Linked DNA regions of Homo sapiens: regions 1 and 3 are each linked to region 2. Evidence: fine-mapped expression QTL. A gene starts in region 2. Each other region holds a variant in brackets. All regions are shown on one strand. Distances are between the middles of the regions. Region 1 overlaps FAM177B (family with sequence similarity 177 member B). Region 2 holds the start of MIA3 (MIA SH3 domain ER export factor 3). Region 3 has its middle 36 kb from the start of DISP1.

What was found. PIP is the estimated chance that this variant, and not a neighbour inherited with it, causes the effect.
Region 1: its variant is fine-mapped to the expression of MIA3 in lymphoblastoid cells (TwinsUK, PIP 0.95).
Region 3: its variant is fine-mapped to the expression of MIA3 in whole blood (INTERVAL, PIP above 0.99).

What each region holds. Positions count from the first base shown.
Region 1 is chr1:222,746,234-222,752,716 of GRCh38, reverse strand. FAM177B (family with sequence similarity 177 member B) reads right to left here. Exons shown (of 6, transcript NM_001394345.1): 3 at 5,998-6,186; 4 at 5,636-5,702; 5 at 3,155-3,252; 6 at 1,713-2,796. The coding sequence starts at 6,171. The coding sequence ends at 2,659. It overlaps LOC105372984 (a long non-coding RNA gene), which reads left to right. Exons shown (of 4, transcript XR_922641.3): 4 at 1,379-1,535. Among named protein-coding and RNA genes, the nearest start is that of FAM177B, 12 kb to the right of the region's middle. The variant T/C (reference allele first, on the strand shown) is at 2,708.
Region 2 is chr1:222,614,159-222,620,641 of GRCh38, reverse strand. MIA3 (MIA SH3 domain ER export factor 3) reads right to left here and starts at 2,545. Exons shown (of 28, transcript NM_198551.4): 1 at 2,399-2,545. The coding sequence starts at 2,531. RefSeq lists enhancers at 1,505-1,564, 1,845-2,727, silencers at 2,248-2,507, 2,678-2,747 and a cis regulatory region at 3,553-4,135.
Region 3 is chr1:222,776,081-222,782,563 of GRCh38, reverse strand. No RefSeq gene overlaps it. Among named protein-coding and RNA genes, the nearest start is that of DISP1, 36 kb to the left of the region's middle. The variant C/GTTTC (reference allele first, on the strand shown) is at 2,910.

The sequences.
Region 1 (6,483 bases), 130 kb before region 2:
TCATTCAATATTATAATAGTCAGGGTTCTCCAGTGAAGCAGAACCAATAGCATAGATTTATAGAGACATAGGTAGATAGACAGATAATTGGATAGATAGATACAATGAGATTTATTATGAGGAACTGAATTTATTGTGATTATGGTGGTTGAGAAGTCCCACAATCTGCCATTCACCAACTGGAGACCCAGGAAAGCCAGTGATGTAAATCAGTTTGAGTTCAAAGACCTAAGAATGAGAGAAGCCAAGGTAGTAAATCCCAGTCCATGGGCAGGAGAAGATGAAATGAGATGAGATATCCAAGCTCAAGCAATAAGGCAGAAAAAAGGAGCAAATTCTTCCCTCCTTGGCCTTTTGTTTCATTCAAGCCCTCAGTGGATTGGATGGTGCTCATCCACATTGGGAAGGCAATCCATTTACTGAGTCCAACAATTCAAATGCTAATGTCATCCAGAAATATCCTCACAGATACACCCAGAAGTAATGTTTAATTTGGGCATCCTGTGGCCCAGTCAAGTTGACACATAGAATTAACCATCATAAATATTAATAATTGTAATTGATACTATGACTTAAGCACCTTATTAGAGCCACAGCTTTACGTGCTTTTCCTCAATTTTAACATGAAACAGTCATGGGATACCTACCTAGCTCACTGCAATTTCCTTTTCCTGAGAACCATCTTAACCCAGAAATAGGTCCCATAACCATGTTGCTACTACAAGGCTCCATCTCCCTGGCCACAATTAATTGAATTAGAGAGTGATACTTGACAAAAAGGAGCAAAACAGATTCTATCCACACTATGCTTTGAAATGGGGACGAAAGACTAGTATATCAGTCACTTGAACAGAAGAATTATCAAGAGCTATAGAGTGGGCATCTTCCTCATGGGCAAGAAAGATGAGAGATGGACAGACAGTACCTGTTGGGTGCTTGCTTGTCACACTGTTTAGATCCTATTGAGACTAATCTCCCTTTGGTGTCCATTTGATAACTCAGTGTACTTTCCACAAAATTCTTTTTTGTTGCATAAAGCTGGTTCAAATTATATTTGCTTCCTGTCTCAAACCTGTTTTATAGATGAGAACATTGAGAAGTTGAGTAATTTGCACAGAGCTACTGGGTTACAAAGAGGCAGGAGAGCTGAGATTAAATCAATATCATATTGATCCTTGAGCCTACCATTTATCTCCTATGCCATTAGAAGAAAGTGTTTCCTTTTCTCAGCTATCTTAGGAGGCTCAGACACCCATAAAATTAATTATAGCCATGTGATTTTCTTTGGTGAACGAAACATACACAGAGGTGACATGATTCATTTTTAGTGGAGATATTGATTGCCACTGCTTAACTCTCCATGCTGTTCCTTTTCCAGCAACCCCGAGAGCACATCACAGTATGGAGAAAACATAAGATCAAAGAAGCATGCAACACTGAGCTATCACACGGAGAACACCTGTCTGGGAAGCCACCTAAACTGACAGTGGACTTCTCAAGAGAAAGAAATAAACTTTCTTGTTTTAGGACACTGAGATTTTGGAGGTGTCTGTGCAGCATAATCTATCCTATCCTACTATATTCAACTCACAACTCCTTATGCTCCAGGCCTACTTCTGTCTTTGATTTCATATTAAATTAATTCCAACTTCCTCTTCTCTTAGAGCTATAATTTCAGTTATATATGGCTGCATAACAAACCACTCCAAAGCTTAAAACAACAATAAATTATTATTTCTCATAATTCTGTATAACAATAACAAGCAAAGTCAAGTCACCCATATTTTACAAAGTAGACTGGAGCTCAGAAATCTAGACATCTCAAATCACACAACTAGTAAATGGGAGAAGTGAAACTGGAACTCATGTCTTACTACTGCAGGCCCTGTGTTTTTCATTTTTTTTTTTTTTGGTTTGTTTTTTGCTATTAATGTATCACAGTTACTTTGGCCAGCACACCCTGTGTTATCTAACAATGATTTCCATGTTCGATCTTTCCAGGTTTTGAAAATTTCTTGACAAATAAATAAGAAAATAATCCATTAATATTTTTTTCTAGAGCTTATATTATTTATCAATTGTTTTAATTTGGAGGGATGTACCTAATTCTTAAAGATCTTGATAATGATCTTGTAACACAGTTATTAGCAATGTTTACTTATTGTAAAACAATCCCCAACTACGCCAGGATGGTTGTTGGAAGTACACACTATATCAAATCCTGAAAGGGGATTTATTTAGACTTTGCGGTGCCCAAATTTTCTTCTGAGGAATAGAGCTTCTTTACTGTACCCTCGTCCCATGACAGAGGATTTCAGCCAAAAACTCCCAGTCCCAAAGTTCCTTAAGGCATTTATGCTACTGTGCAAATGTCAGTACTCATGGGACTTGTATCACAGGGGTGGAGTTGAGGTGGGGTGGCTTGAATATAGAAATTATTCTGAGAAAGTGTCCAAAATTACTCTCATTATTGCTTGTAATTCCTGGATGCTTGAGACTAAGTCACACAGAGATTAGGATCAGATCTGGCTCAGAAGTGCTACCTCTGGTGTTGTTGCCATGGTAATCAATGGCCAAGGAACAGATCCAGGGAAACTGCAGTCTTTGCTGCCATCATGAGCTAGGATCTGCCACCAGACCCTCCCTGGATGAGGTGCTTCACTGAGGAATGGCCTCTGTCACATCCTGTTGTATGGTTCCATACTCT[T/C]GGACCCCAGCCTCCAAGTGACACTTTTCATTAGGAACCTCAGCTGCCTGGGCCTTTGATCCTCTCCTTTCACTTTTGTTGTCACTTTTCTGTTTTGGAGAGAAATAAGGAAATGTTTAACTGTACAAACAAAGACCTCTGAACTCCCCCTCTTGTATATAATGCCCATGTAAGAAGCTTCTACTTTAAGCAATCTGAGCCTTCTCACCCAACTACCTTCTTCTACAACACAGCTCATGACATCCTAACTTCGCAGGAGTGAGGCAAATGTGAAGAAGTGTCCCTGGGTGAACAGAACTAGAAAAATAAGTCAGTCTGACTATGGGAGCTTGGTGAAATTATAGTACATATGACCAGGTGGGAAAAATACTTCTCTATACTGGCCTAAATTTGGAGCAACCAATATTCCCATCTCAGGCCCCTTGTTTCCATCAGAGTGTCACATACCTTGTTTTGTATCCTATAGAACTCGTTTAACACATACTGATATTTGGGTTGAGTAAGACCAAAGAAGACAGCAAATCTTCCACCAAGGAATTCACATGCTAAAAGAAAGAACGAGCACTTGCGTAAACTGAATTACTAACTAAAGCTTCGCATCAGTTGAGATGCCCAGAGTTTAAACTATTCTGATAGTATAGTAATAGTGGTCTATTACTATACTTAACTTCAAGGCTGACAAAACATTTCAATTGCCTTGGCCTCTCAAAAATTCTAGGATTCAAAGGAAATTTGTCAAATCTTCTATCTTTATATGGGATTATATATAAACTATTTTTTCCAGATGTATATATCAGGAGAGATTTTCAATATACTTTAACAACAGGTATAGCATGGGTCCTGAGCAATCAGAACAGGTATTGTTCATTATCCCCATGCATACCGGCTAAACATCTGCTCCAAGTATATTTCAAATTAAACCCAAACTCAATCCAGTGTTACCAAGACCCACATCAGGAATTCTTCCATGCATCCAGACAGACTTCTCAGAAGTTGTTTAAGGCCTTCCTTTTCTGCCTTCAGTAGCAAGGTGGCCTGCAGGCTCAGCACTGGGATTGTTAGAGTCAGGGATAAAGGCATAGCATGAATAATGAGTGGTTTCCTAAAGAAGTCTCCTAGAAAAGTTTTCCTTTACAATTAGAGGATTTCCGACAGCCTTCTCTTACCCCTGAATTATAGGACTTTCTGATTCCTCTGACTCATTCTACCTCTTGGGATATTGCTCATATAGGGCATCAAAATGATGCTGTTTTTAAATATGTCTTATCTTTTCATTAATATGCTATCTCTTTGTCCTGTTTATTTGCTGCACTGCCTAGTACATGTGTAGAAGATAACTTTTTAAAAAAATATTAAAATAAATCTTAGGAAGCTTTCCTGTTTATGACCTACTAGAATTTTAAATTGAAAAAATTAATTACCTGTGTCGTCTGAGTTCCAACTCCATTCAAACAAAATCTCTGTGTAGACAGACCACAGCACTGACTGCTAGCATCTTTATGCCTCCACTACAATCTTGAAGCCCCAGTCAGGAGCATTTTACCACTGCAGTTCTGTTTGGCACTCACAAGGAAGCTAGGCTCACCATACATCCTATCCCTGCAATCTCAAATCAAAACCCAACATGCAAATCATTCTTCTTCTCCATACTCTCAATCCCATATTGAGTTTTGCTTCTTTTACCTGACCTAATCTTCTCCAATTCCCTCCCTCTAAAACATATCTTTTCAAACCCTTTTGCCTTAACCGAAGTGTAGAGAGCTTTCTGGAAGACAGCATTTTTTTTTCTGTTAACTTATTGTGGTCAGGGTAGGGTTGGTATTCACGGGATTTTCAACGTAACTTCCAAATCACTAACCCTCTGCACTTGTGTAAAAGCACTTATTTCTTGAAGGTTCATACCATCTGCCTAAATCACCCCATCTTTACTTTTTACTGTAATCTAAAGATTCCCTGGTCACTTTCATGGTCCTCAAGCTAGCCTTAGCCAGCCACACTTTCATAGCTCTCTTAAGGGGTCTCCCCCACATGTCAGCATGCCCGAGTCTTCCAGGTCAGAGCCCCTATACACTTTCTACCCTGGCAACTGTGACAACAAATTATAATTACGAGCATGTTTGCTGGTCTATATGACTCACTGAATATTGAGTCCCTTGAAAGCAGAGACTTGTCATTCATCTTTGTGTCCCAGGGTCCAGCACAGTGCTGAGCATATAGTAGACACTTACTAATGTTTTTTAAATGAATGAATGAAGATCAATTTCTAAGAGCTATTAATACAATTTCTATTTTCTCAGACTCTTAGTTTGCCTTCCTATCATATTCACAAGATGTGCAAGTTAGAAGGAAATGAGTAATTAGATGTTGTCAACTATGTCTTAAAAAAATTGATGAAAGTCAAGCAAAATAAGATTTAGTATTTTAGTTGTTATAAGTATTCACTTAGCCCATTCATTATGCCCCCAGGAGGGATCGATAAAGTTCATGTTTATAATAAAGCAGTTATGATGAGGGAAGTTAGAAACTTAGAACTGTGTCATACAACAATCATTGTTTTTTTAACTTGGAAGTTTATTCAGAAGAAGAGTCAACTCAGGGAGGACTGATTATTGCCCTCAAATATTGCCCTCTGTCCTATGAAAGAGGCATCTATAGCAGTTTTGTATGGTTAAGAAAGATAAGTAGGAACTTTAGAAGTAGATAAAATTTGGGCCGAGATAAGAATTTCCTGATGAGAGTTGGTAAAAGATGAAGGGTCTGCCTGAGGATGCGAAGTTCTGTGCCTTTGGGAATGAAAGCTTAGCCCAGATCTCACTTATTCAGGATGCGATGGAGTGGCTTACACAATTGGAAGTCCCACATACTCTGAGGGCCTATCGATATATATATTTGTTTAGGATAGAAAAAAATAACCTTAGCAGTACTTACTAGAAAATGAGGTGCTTGCTATTCGTCCTGCCCAAAATCGTAGGTAGGGCCCCCAGGAAAGTTTAGACTGAAAAAAGGAGAAATTGAGATAGAGTAGTTAATAAGAGGAATGGTGACTGCAGATTTGTTTTAATGTAGAGATTTCAAAATGCTCTATATAATATGTTCCATTTTCTCTCTCACAGATGAAGAGACCAAGATGATTAAAATTGTAAGTTGCCTATGCATGGATTTAGAAAGCAAAAAAGGAGACCAAGGACTTAGCTTAAAGCTATTCTTTCTATAAACCTTGTCTGGCTCAATCTCTTGTTCATTCACCGCCTCCCCCACCATGTTCCCTAATATTGATATACTAAGCTTACAGGGTCAAGTGTTGAATTTGTGCTCTGCTCCTCCTTTTCCTCTTCCTCCTCCTCCTCTGTGCTATATTCTTCCATGATGTCTCCGTCAACAAAATGGATAATCCTTTTAGGAGTAGTCTTTTTGGAAGGTACACTCTTCTCTAGGTCTAACTGCTGGAAACCGTCAATCTCCATAATGAAACAAAACAACTAGAAAATTAAAAACAGGGCACCTTAGGGCAAGTTACCCAGAGCTGAGAGTTATCTAGTTATTTTCAATGGATAGTAAAGACAGAGAACTCAGAGGTAATCACACCTGTGACCTCATCGATTCCTCAAATCCAAAAAAGGACTGTTCTATTCTGTACCAAAATGGAAGAGATTTGATAAATAGCGAAAACGTGAACTTACAGTCTTCAAACAAAAGTGTCAACAGGGTTTTCTTACCTTTTGTTAACGTTAAAACACACAATTGCTAGTAGGAAGGGGTCACTATCCTGCAGACGT
Region 2 (6,483 bases):
TGTAACCAGTACTATGTAGCAGTAAACACTGTCAATTTCATTTGCAGCCAAGTTGTTCCCTTAGTACAGTGTCTGGATAAATTAATGGGAAAAGATATCTATCACACCCTACTATAGATTCAATTACATCACAAGGCAATATTTTCTGAAAGTAAATAATGTTGACTGTATCCAAAATTAAGTTTCAAAACAAAGGAAAGAATACCCTTATGTATATTTTTCTATAAACAAAATCAAAAGTCGACATCTCATTTGGCTGGGACTAAGCAAAACTATGAGAATAGGTCAGTAATTCAATCACGCTTGATCTAGAAACTGGCTGAAGCAGTACTTTTATTTTTGTTGACCACATACACAGTTTCCCATGTAAGATGAAATGGACAATAAATACATCTAAATAGCAGAGACAAAGAAGGACGAATAGAAATAAGATTTTTTCCAAAAGCCAATTTGCAATAAAATACATTAAAAACGTGCCTTTAAATGGCTATACACGCATATAGATTTGGAAGGGGCTACTTGTTTTTTGAAGCTAAACTCTGATTACTTTCCAACATGTCAGCTTTGTAGCTCAGATATAATTGAGTGTGAGGCCAGGTTTAAGATGATGGACAATTTAAGGTTGGGAATAAGATCAGAATTGAAAATGGCAATGTTTCTTTTGCTCCCCCTTACAATAGATCATAGAGGATTTATAATAATATTTGAGATGCCAACAAAATGCACCCTGTGGAACAGCTATTTGAAAACCACACAAGGGCACCGTACATACTCACATTACTAAACACTTTCTACAACACAACACAGACCCATCTAGACCTTGCTCCTGTTGATGCCTATTGTATTTGGTTTCCTCTGAACACGTACCATTTCTCAAGTTATGTTACAACCGTGAGCTCTTCTAACATCATGCCTCAGTACTGAAGAAGCATCAGTGATGTGATGATTCTCCAGGTAACCTGTTTTGAGGAACCCAGGCAGGGCAATGCTTGCAAGCAAAGAATACCAACTATCTTGCCATTGCCAACGGCAAATGGGTAACAGCGTGGCTTTGACCCAAGAAAACTAAAGGGAAAAATCATGGCAGTTGTACCGCTTTTGTAGTGTTTATTTACATCAACCACAGGGTTATCTCTAGGAATGGCTTCACACTCATTAGAGATCTCTTTTCTTGATTAGTGTTGTAGAGATACAAACAGTTCATATTATGAAATTCGGTTTTGATAACATCAATTTGAATATAAATAGCTAAACCATAGAGTTCTTGGCCTTCTTAAAATGAATACGTTTCTATAGGCATTGCTTAACAGTGTATGAAAAACCGTTTCTGCAGTGGCTATCAGTAAGTTACAAGGTTGAGACGGTCTGGGAGGCCCTAAAATGATCCTGGTCCGGCGAACATAGAGGGAAGAGGTTTCAACACGCAAGCGGCTAAGGCTAAACCAAGCTTGGCTTATGAGACCCTTGGAGTATTTACTGTCATTCCTGTAATAACCTTCTTCATCTGAGCCTGAAGATCTGTGCCCTCTCCACCGCCCACCTCCAATCCCAGACTGGAGAGCAATTCCGCTTCCTGCGCACAGAAGAGGAGGCTGCCGGTCCCAGGTGGCCGGTGCAGATCCTCGGTCTCTGCAGAGCGAAAGATTTTGGTCTTCCTGCAGTCCTGCCTAGCAGTCTGCAAGGCGGCTTCCAAGCACAGAAACGACAGGATTGATCAAAGTCGGGGCAGAGACCTCGGAATACAATGAGTGCTTGGACTCCAGACTCGTCCCAAACCTAAACTCCCAATTCCTGTTCAAAAGGCGGTACAAGCCCAAATCCCAATAAAGCAGAAGGGCAAAGGAGCAGCGCCAGGGAGCCTTTCCAAACAAACCCCACCATCAACCTGCCACTGGGAAAACGCCCACCGAGCCCTTAGCGCATCTGCCGGGGTGATGCACCCACCGAGGTCCCCGCAGCGCGGGCAGGAAAGCTTTGGTTGCGGCGTGGGGAGCCCAGACGCGCGGCGCGCAACCACATCTACCCTCCGAGCCCAGGCGGATTGGGGGGGTGGGAAGGGGACGCTGTGAGCCACTATTGGGGAAGCCGGGGACCACCGCAAGCAACCCCCCGCCTCAGCAGAGGAAAAATAAAACGCTGGCAACAAGTGGGAGGTGCAGCCCCCATGGTCAGGCCCGAGGGGCCGGGCGCAGGCAGAGCGGGAGAAGGCAGACACAGGGACCCGGAGCGCGCCCACCCCCGCGTTCAGCCCATCCCGCCTGCGACCCCCGGGCCGGCCAGGGGCTGCGGAACTCCCGTCCCCGCACAGCCCAGGCGGCGCCGCCGCGGAGACCCCCGGGGCCGGCGGAGACCCCAAGGCCAGCCGCCCCGAGGCCAGCCGCCCCTCCAGCGCACTCACTGCTGCATTCGTCGTCCGCGCAGAGTTTGTGCTCCGAGAACCGCCGGCCAGTGCTGGGGTCCAGCTGGCCCGGCACCCGCCAGGGCAGCCGGAGCACGAGCAGCCAGACGAGCAGCCCAGGCGCCGCAGCCATGTTGTGGTCACCTCGGGGAGCCGGTGACGCGGAGGAGGAGGCCGGGGCGGGCGCAGAGGGGCGGGACGGGGGCGGGGACGGGGCGGGGACGGGGGGGCTGGGGCGGGGGCTGGGGCGGGGACGGGGCGGGGACGGGGGCGGGGACGGGGGCGGGGGCGGGGGCGGGGACGGGGCGGGGACGGGGGCAGGGACGGGGGCAGGGACGGGGGCAGGGACGCGGGCAGGGACCAGGCGGAGCGCCGGGGGCATGTGGGAAGACAAGCGCAGAGGGGCGGCGCCCGCGAAGGTCTGAGCAGTTTCCGACTGACACGTCAGCAGAGGCTCTAGGAGGGATGCGGGAGACCTCCAGGAGGAGGACTGACAGCAGCCTCCTCCTCTCCTCGAAGCCTTCTCCTCTGGTCGCTGCCGTGGCAACCAGGACTCCCTCGCCCAATCACCTGCCTTTGCCCCAGTCCCTCGCAGCACCTCCGCGTGACTCCATTCTTAGTTCACCCCTCCCCGCGCGCTTGGGTCCCCCAACCCTGCGCCATCTCAACAGGTCCCTTCTGGCGCCTTCTCGCAGTTTCTGGTTTGTGGCCTGTCCCGAACCAGCCCCCCACTTCACCCCGCTACTTCACCCCGCTACCCCCACTCTTGGCATGGTACCTCCTTTTCTGAACTGCCAAATCCCACCCGCGATTTGCCACTGTTAGTCTCTGGTTTCAGGCTCCCTCCTTTTCAGCCTCCCAGGGCTTCCTTGGGGGCACCATCCCGTGGTGCTCTTTGATTAAGAAAGGGGGAGGTGAGTGGAATAGGGGGCTGAGGATATAAATCAGAGCCCGTGGCCTGCTTGGTCGTTGATAGAAATGGGTAATGGTCCTTGGGCTGAGATCTTGAGATTCCTAGATCTATATCCATAGGAAAAAAGTAAATTAATTTAATAACAGTGTGATGAGCTTCCATTTTATACTTATTTCATGCCAGAATTAAGATTAATCTTCACAACAATCGCACCTTAGAGTAGTAGGTCCTATTATGATCCCCATTTCAGAGATGACTACCTTAAGGCATTCAAACACCTAGTGAGTGATGGAGCTAAGATTCAAACCCAGGTAGTATGCTCCTTTTTAATCACAGCTCTGTAAAGCCTCCATCAAGCAACAAGCAATTTTTGTACTTTCTTTCTGAGCAGGGAAGCAAAATCTTATTTAAATCATACTATAACTGGATGATTTATATGTGCAGTTAAAAAAGCGGGGGACTGCATGAGCAGGTCAGCCCAGAGAAGAGTGGCTACAATGCTCTCCAGAAGAGTGGCTACAATGCTCTCCAGCCCTGGTTGAAGAACTTGGCATCTGTCTGTGACCAGCAGCTTCTCATTGCAATCTCTAAGGTTACTCATCAACCTTGAACAACAAACCCAGCAGCTGGTTTCCCAAACAAATCGTATTACTTAAAAGCAAGAAGAAAGAATGTGGCTTGTCTGTGCAATCCATTATATCGAATAAGGAAAAAACGGTAAACAGATGCTCACAAATTTTTGTCTGTAGGAGCCGTGAGAGTTCCTACTGGGCCAATGTAATTCCAATGCTGTCTTGAGAAATATACATTTGGTAAGGTCACGGACAAGCACTTTCTATCCAAGTAGTAGTTCTGTTCATTCTTCATTTCTTTTCTACTGTGTATTTATTTGTTTTAATATCTTAGATGTGTCTAATAGGCATCTCTAACAATATGTTGAAAACCAAACTCTTTATCTTTTTCTCTCAAACTCTGCTCCTTTCGGTCTTCCCTATTTGAGGAATAGGAATGACAATTTAATTCCTATCTTCTAGGTGCTTAAGCCAAAAACATACAAACCATCCTCGACCTCTTTTTTCTCACACCCAAGTCCAATCCATCAGACAATCCCATGTCTTTTTTAATAGCTTTGTTGAAGTATAATTAACCTACAATAAATTGCACATGTTTAAAGTGTACAATGATAATTTTTGACATATGTCTACACCCATGAGACCATTACCACAATGAAGTTAATTAACATATTCATCAACATCACCTCTGAAAGAGTTCTCATGATCCTTTATAATCCCTCCCTCCCTTGTCCCAGCTGTCTTCAGACAACCTTCTGTCACTGCAGATTGGTTTGCATTTTCTAGAATTTGATATAAATGGAATAATATCGTATACATTCTTTTTTTGTCTGACTCTTTCACTCAGCATAAACATTTGAAATACATTCAGAATCTGACCACTTCTCCCCATCTCCAGTGCCAGCAGTGCAGGCCAGGCCACCCATCTCTCACCTGAATAACTGCAATAGCCTTGTCATGTTCTTGCTTCTGCTCTTGCCCTTCCAAAGTCATAGTCTCAATAGTAGCTAAAGCAATTGTTTTATGAAATAAATGTGGTCATGCCTCTCCCCTGCTCATAACCTTCCCATGGCTTCCCATTTCCAAGTAAAATGCAATTACTTTTTTATGGAGTACACTGTCTTATTTAATTTTACTCCTCTGCCCTTTTACCCTCATTTCCTAACACTCCTCCCTTGCTCTGTTGGTTCCACTCAGATACACCAAGCCTAATCCTGCATTCGTGTATCTGCACTTGCAATTTTCCGTCAGCCTGGAATAATTCCCCAAATAGTCTGCCTGGCTAACTAGTTTCCTCACTTCATCGTGTCTCTGTAACAGTGCCATATCTTACAAGTGAGGCCTTCCCTGATACCCCTACGTAAAACAGAACTCCTTCTCATGACTAGCTGGCTCATCACTGTGCTTTATTTTTCTTTAGAGCGTTTACCACCTGCCTTATGTTTATCTACTTTACTGCCACCCAACCTCCAATATAAGCTCCATGGAAGCAGCGGATTTGTCTGTTTTGTTCACTGCTGTAATATCAGTGCCTAGAACAATGTCTGGAATATATAAGGTACTCAACAAATGATTTGTTGAATAAACCCACAGATCTTCACACATTATAAATATATTATGCTATTAACCTAAATAAAGCCTCCATAAAATGAATAGTACCAAAAGGGAATATACCATGAAAACAAGGCATTTGGTGTCTTCCCCTCAGTAGCATCCTTACCGCCAAGGACAGAACCTGAAATGTATTTACTGTTGAATGAGGGTGTATTTGTTGCAGAGGGAGTGGATGAAATAGCATGTATTTTTTCCCAATATACTACCAGAATATTAAAGCAGATTTAAAACATGATTTTATCTTATTTCTCCTTAGATTAGAATTAATAACAATTAATTGATGAAAAAAACAAAACTCCAACATGATCTAATCGAATATTATTACTTTACAAAGTGAATAATATTCACTTTGACTAATATTTACAAAAGCTTTTACATGAAAGGTCAGAGCTCTCTGTTACTGAAGAACTAGCTACTTAAGTGTGTAGATTTTATAGGGTTTTGATTTATTTACATTTTTGAAAAAATCATTTTCTTAAAAAGATATTGACAAGCCTGGTGGATAATTAGAAGACAGTTCTCAGCTGACCATAGTGAAGGTAGGGGTGGTGGTTCTTCCTCCTAGCATATATAAAATTAGGGGATGAATCAGAATTCATTTTCACTCATAGCGTTTGAATATGTGGCATTGATGTTTAACATAAACTCTAATCCTACATGTATTATTTGGTAACACTTCAAATGGAATTTTCAAATGGGTAAAGATTAAGTAAGAGTTAAAAATAAATTTGCCTAGTTTTGGGTGGAAGATACATAGAAATGTAACATTGGAGGGTTTCTGACCTCAGGGAATTTGCAGTCTAAATGAGAAAACAAGAGATAACTGAAACAAATAGGAGACATCGCAATAACATATATCATTGTAAACTTGCCATGGTGCCTAGCCATGAACATCCAGAAGGTCTAACACTGAAGTTACCAGTAAGAACCTAGAATCTATTGCCAATGATAAAATCTATTGCCAATGATAGAATCTATTGCCAATG
Region 3 (6,483 bases), 160 kb before region 2:
GCTCTAATATTTATTTCCTACCTTCTGCTGACTTGAGCTTAGTTTGTTTTTCCAGTTCCTTGAGGTGTGAAGTTAGGTTATTTACTTGGTGTCTGTCTTTTTCCTTAATGTAGGCATTTATCACCACAGACTTTCCTCTTAGCACCGCTTTTGCCCCATCCCATAAGTTTTGGTATGTTGTGTTCAATTTTCATTTGTTTCAAGACACTTTTTGAGTTTCTTTTGTTTTCTTCTTTGATCCATTGGTTGTTCAGGAGTGTATTGTTTAATTTTATGTATTTGTGAATTTTCTAAAATTCTTCCTATTGTCAATTTTTAGTTTTGTAACATTTCGATCAGAAAAGATACTTGATATGATTTCAATCTTCTTAGATTTAAGACTGGTTTTGTGGCCCAACGTGTGATCTACCCTGGAGTAGGTACTGTGTGCTCCTGAGAAGAATGTGTGTTTGCTTCTGTTGAATGGATTGTTCTGTCTATGTTTGGTAGGTTGATTTGTCTATAGTTTTATTCACATCTGCTATTTCATTACTAATCTTCTCTCTAGATGATCTATCCATTGTTGAATGTGGGTGATTGAAGTCCCTTATTATTATTGCATTGCTGTCTGTTTCTCTTTCTAGTTCTGTTAATATTTGCTTTACATATTTAGGTGCTCCAATGTTAGGTGCATATGTATTTACAATTGTTATACCCTCCTGATGAATTGACCTCTTATCATCATATTGTGATCTTCTTTGTCTTTTGTGACAGATTTTGTTTATTTTTTATTTATTTGTTTTTTTCAAGATAACGTCTGGCTCTGTTGCCAAGGCTGGAGTGCAGTGGCATAATCTTGGTTCACTGCAACCTCTGCCTCCTGGGCTTAAGCCATCCTCCCACCTCAGCCTCTCAAGTAGCTGGGACTACAGGCACACACCAACATGCCTGGCTAATTTTTGTATTTTTTGTAGAGATGGAGTTTTGCCATGTTGCTCAGGCTGGTCTTGAACTCATGTGCTCGAGTGAACCGCTCACCTAAGCCTCCCAAAGTGCTAGCATTCAAGGCATGAGCCACAGCACCTGACCTCTTGTGACAGATTTTGACTAAAAGTCTAGTTTGTTTAATATAAATATAGCTACCCCTGCTCTCTTTTGGTTTCCGTTTGCATGGAGTATCTCTTTCCACCCCTACACTTTCAGTCTGTGTGCCCTTGAGACTAAAATGAATCTCTTGTAGTTAGCATATTATTGGATCTTGTTTATTAATCCATTCGGCCTCTCTGTGTCTTTTGATTAGCAAATGTAATCCATTTATATTTAGAGTAATTATTAATAAGTAAGGGCATACTGTTGCCATTTTGTTAATTGTTTTCTGACTGTTTTGGATATGTCAACAAAAGCACTAGCGACAAAAGCAAAAATAAACATATGGGACTATATCAAACTGAAAAGCTACTGAACAGCAAATGAAATAATCAACACAATGAAAATGCAACCTGTGAAATGGGAGAAAACATATGCAAACTATATATCTGATAAAGGGTTAATATCAAAATGTACAACAAACTCCATAGCAAAAAAATAAGTAACCCAATTAAAAAATGGGCAAAAGACCTAAATAGGCATTTTTCCAAAGATGACACACAGATTGCCAACAGATATATAAAGAAGTGCTCAAAATCACTAATCACCAGAGAATTCTAATTAAAACCACAATGAGATATCACCTCACATCTCTTAGGATGGCTATTATCAAAAAGAAAAAAGATAACAAGTGTTGACAAGGGCATGAAGAAAAGGGAACCTTGTATACTGTTGGTGGAAATACCAATTGGTACAACTATTATGGAAAACAGTATGGAGGTTCCTCAAAAAATTAAAAATAGAACTACCATATGATCAAGCAATCCCACTTCTGGGTATATATCCAAATGAAATGAAATCAGTATCTTGAAGAGATATCTATATCCCCATATTCGTTGCAGCATTATTCACGATGGCCAAGATATGGAAACAACCTAAGTGCCCATTGACAGATGAATGAGTAAATAAAATGTGTTAGATACAATGAAAGATTATTCAGCCATAAAAAAAAATCCTGTCATTTGTGACAGCATTGATAAACCTAAAGGATATTATTCTAAGTGAAATAAGCTGGACACAGAAAGACAAATACTGTATGACCTCACTTGTATGTGGAATCTCAAAAAGTTGAACTCAGGGGCAGAAAGTAGAATGGTGGTTGCTAGGAGTTCGAAGTGGAAAAAATGGAGAGATGATGGTCAAAGAGTACAAACTTTCAGTTTTAAGATGATAAAGTTCTGGGGATCCAATGTATAGCATAGGTGGTAATAGATGGGTTAATTTGATTGTCCATATCACAATGTATATGCATATGCCTCATCACATTGTACACCTTGAGTATATACAATATTTGTCAATTAAATATTTTAAAATAAAAGAAAAAAGAAAAATCATAATTTATTTTAGAACTATATCTCAGTATTTAAATTAGTATCCTCGTATATTTTTTATCGTTCCTACTAAATAGAAAATCATAGCCTGGCGTGGTGGCTCACACCTGTAATCCCAGCAGTTTGGGAGTCTGAGGTGGGTGGATCACTTGAGGTCAGGAGTTTGAGACCAGCCTGGTCAACATGGTGTAACCCTGTCTCTACTAAAAATACAAAAATTAGCCAGGCGTGGTGGCATGCACCTGTAGTCCCAACTACTCAGGAGGCTGAGGCACAAGAATCGCTTGAACCCGGGAGGAGGAGGTTGCAGTGAGCCGAGATAGCACCACTGCACTCCAGCCTGGGCGACACAGCGAGACTCTGTTAAAAAAAAAAATCAGTAATCATGTGGTAAATAATAATAATAATAATTATTATAAAAGAACAGGGAAATTCTTTAGTCTCCTTTTGTTT[C/GTTTC]CTATTACTCCTCTCCTCTGCCAAAATTTACAATCTGTTATCTATTCTTTCATGCTTCATTTGTATTCATACAATCACGTATAAACTATATATAATAAGCTTTTCTTTTCTAATTCATGTGTATTTTACAAAAATGGGATCATATTATCTGTATTCCTTTGTGTCTAGTTTTTTTTACTTTTTTTTTTCTCTTGATACATTATGGAATTTCCCTCAGTGGTATACATCCAACTCATTCTTTTTTTTTTTTTTGAGACGGGTTTTCCCTGTCACCCAGGCTGGAGTGCAGTGGTGCAATCACGGCTCACTGCAGCCTTGACCACCTAGGCTCAAGCAATCCTCCTATCTTAGCCTCCTGAGCCACCACACCTGGCTAATTTTTAAATTTTTTTGTAGGTACGGGATCTCCTTATGTGGTCCAGGCTGGTCTCAAACTCCTGGGCTCAAGCAATCCTACTGCCTTGGCCTCCCAAAGTGCTGGGATTACAGGAGTGAGCCATCATGCCCTGCTGCAACTCGTTCTTTTCAATAATTAACTTATATTCCATGGCTTAATTGTATCACAGTTTCTTCCACCATATTGAAAGGCATTTACTCAGTTTCTAATTTTTTGCTGCAACAAACAACGCTATGGTAAACATCTTTGCATGTATATTTTTACATATTGGAATTTCACTTATAGCAGATAGATTTCCAGAAGGATTTCTCCATCAGAGTATGTAAATTGTAAAATTTAAAATATATATCTGGATTGCTTTCCATAAAAGCTGTAACAATCCAAATTTCCCCTGGCAATATATGCACAGAATAGGTTTTTTTCACATTTTCATCAATAGTAAGTTTTTATTGTCTGCTAATTTGGTAGATAAGTTGAGACATCTCATTGTTACTTTAATTTGCATTTTCTCCACATTAGAAAATATTTTCATTGGTTTATTGACCATTTGCATTTCTCTTCTATAAATTGACTTTTTATATTTATTTGTCTCTATTTCTGTATTCTGTTGATAGTCAATTTATAGGAACCTTCTGACAGATATGCATATTCATTTTATGTGTGAGTTATTTTTGTGGCACATACTTTTTATCAATCTTTTTGTCTTGTGATTTTGTTTTTATTTTGCCATATAACATTTTATATTTTATATCATCGAATATATTTATTTTATATTTTATTGCCTCTAGGCTCTTGTCTTGATTAAAAAGGTTTCTCTCTCCAAACCCTAGCTTACACATATATTCTTTTAAAATTGTTCTATAGTTTTTGTTTACATATAGAGTTTAAGTTTTTCTGGAAATTTATTTTTGTATATGGTGTGAAGCAGGGATCCCAATTTTATTCTTCTCTAGGCCAGTTGTGTCATAACCAATTTAAAATAAACCATAGTTTTCCCATTAACTTGAAATAGCACTTTTGGCATACAGCCATGCATTGCTTAACAATGGGAATACGTTCTGAGAAATGCATCATTAGGTGATTCTGCCTTTGAGTAAACATCATAGAGTGCCCTTACATAAACATGGATGATAGAGCCTACCGCACATCTAGGCTATATGGTATAGCCCATTGCTCCTAGGCTACAAACCTGTACAGCATGTTACTGTACTGATATTGTAGGCAATTGTAACACTGTGGTAAGTATTTGTGTATATAAACATAGGAAAGGTATGGCAAAAATATAGTATTATAATCTTATGGGACCACTGTCATATATGCAGTCCATTGTTGACCAAAATGTAGTTATATAGTGCCTGACTATATATTCAGTTATCATATATATATACTGACATCTATTTCTGGACATTTTTTTCTCTTCTACTTTTCTTTTTGCCTATTACGATACCAATATCATAAGGTTAATACAAAGGCCAAGAAGGAGACAATGGAAGAATACTTTTTCTATTGTCCATGCCCTAGGTGTGTGGTAGGCTATACAATTTAGGTTTGTGTAAGTACACTCTGTGATGTTTGCACAATGACAAAACCACCTAATGATGCATTTCTCAGAACATATCCTCACTGTTAAGCAACATCTGACTGTATGCCAAAAGTGCTATTTGAAGTCAATGGGAAAACAATGGTTTATTTTATATTGGTTAGGACACAACTGGCCTGGAGGAAAATAAAGTTAGACCCCTGTTTCACACCATATACAAAAATCAATTTCCAAAAAAACTTAAAATCTGTATGTAAACAAAAACTATAGAACAGTTTTAAGAGAATACATGTATAAGCTTGGGTTTGAAAAGAACTTTTTAACCAAGATAGACCTAGAGGCAATAATACATAAAAACTATTCTCTTTGATGTATTGTTGATAGAAGTAAGCTTCTTATATCACATGTGAAGTGGAATAATATCACTTGAATGTAGACTGTGATATGTTAAAGATGCACACTATAAGGCAACCAGTAAATTAACATTAAGAACAAAGAGTTATAGCTAATAGGCCAATAAAGGAGATAAAGTCATACTTAATCCAAAAGAAGGAAGGGTAAGAGGAAAAAGAGAACAAAAAACCCAGATAAAACACATAAAAAAAAAATAGAACCCCAACCATATTAACAAGTATGTTAAATGTAAATGGTCTATACACCCCAACTGAAAAACAAACATTGTCAGACTGGTTGAAAAGTAAGACCCAGCTATATGTTGTCCACAAGAAACCCACTTTAAATATAGACACATGTAAGCTAAAGGTAAAACAGTGAAAAAAAAAGTCATCTTATGCAAACCCTAATCGAAAGAAAGCTAGAGTGGCTATATTAATACAGACAAAGTAGACATCTGAGTGAGAAATATTACTAGGGATAAAGAGGGTCAATCACAATGATAATGAGCAACTACCATAACATTTTAGTACTAGATCTTAAAATACGTTTTAATATCTGGAAAGGGAAGTATCTCTCAGTATTCTTCTTTTTCACAATTTTTAAAAAGTCTTTAACCTTTAGTCTTCTATAAAAGCTTTAAGATCATTTTATCTCATTAAAGAATATAATAGTGGCCCGGTGCAGTGGTTCTTGCCTGGAATCCTAGCACTTTGGGAGGCTGAGGCAGGAGGATTGCTTGAGGCCAGGAGCTCAAGACTAACCTGGTTAACATAACATGACCCCATCTCTGAAGAAAAAAGAATAGAAAAGTGAATCTCATTGAAATATATTGTATATGCCTATTAATATTTGGAAGATTATATTGTCTTCCTAACTAAAAGCATAGTTTTTTATTGGTTCTTTTTTGATCCAGGATTTATTTAGAAAGACACTTTTTAATTTTCAAGTAGAAAAAAATACAATTACCATCCTTTAGTTATTTATATTTAATGTAATTGGTATTTGATTAAAGAATTTTGCCTGAAAAAATATCTACTTTAAAATTTTTATTAACAACCTTTATGGTCAAGGTAATACCAACTTTGGAAAATGCTTCACAAACAATAAAATAGTTCTCCATTTATAGGACATAAAACTTTGGACTTTTGCATTATTCAGTCTTTATATGTCTTACATTTTTTACTACTGTATCTATTGATCTGAAAGACATGAGTTAAAATCTCTCAGAGTAATTGTATATT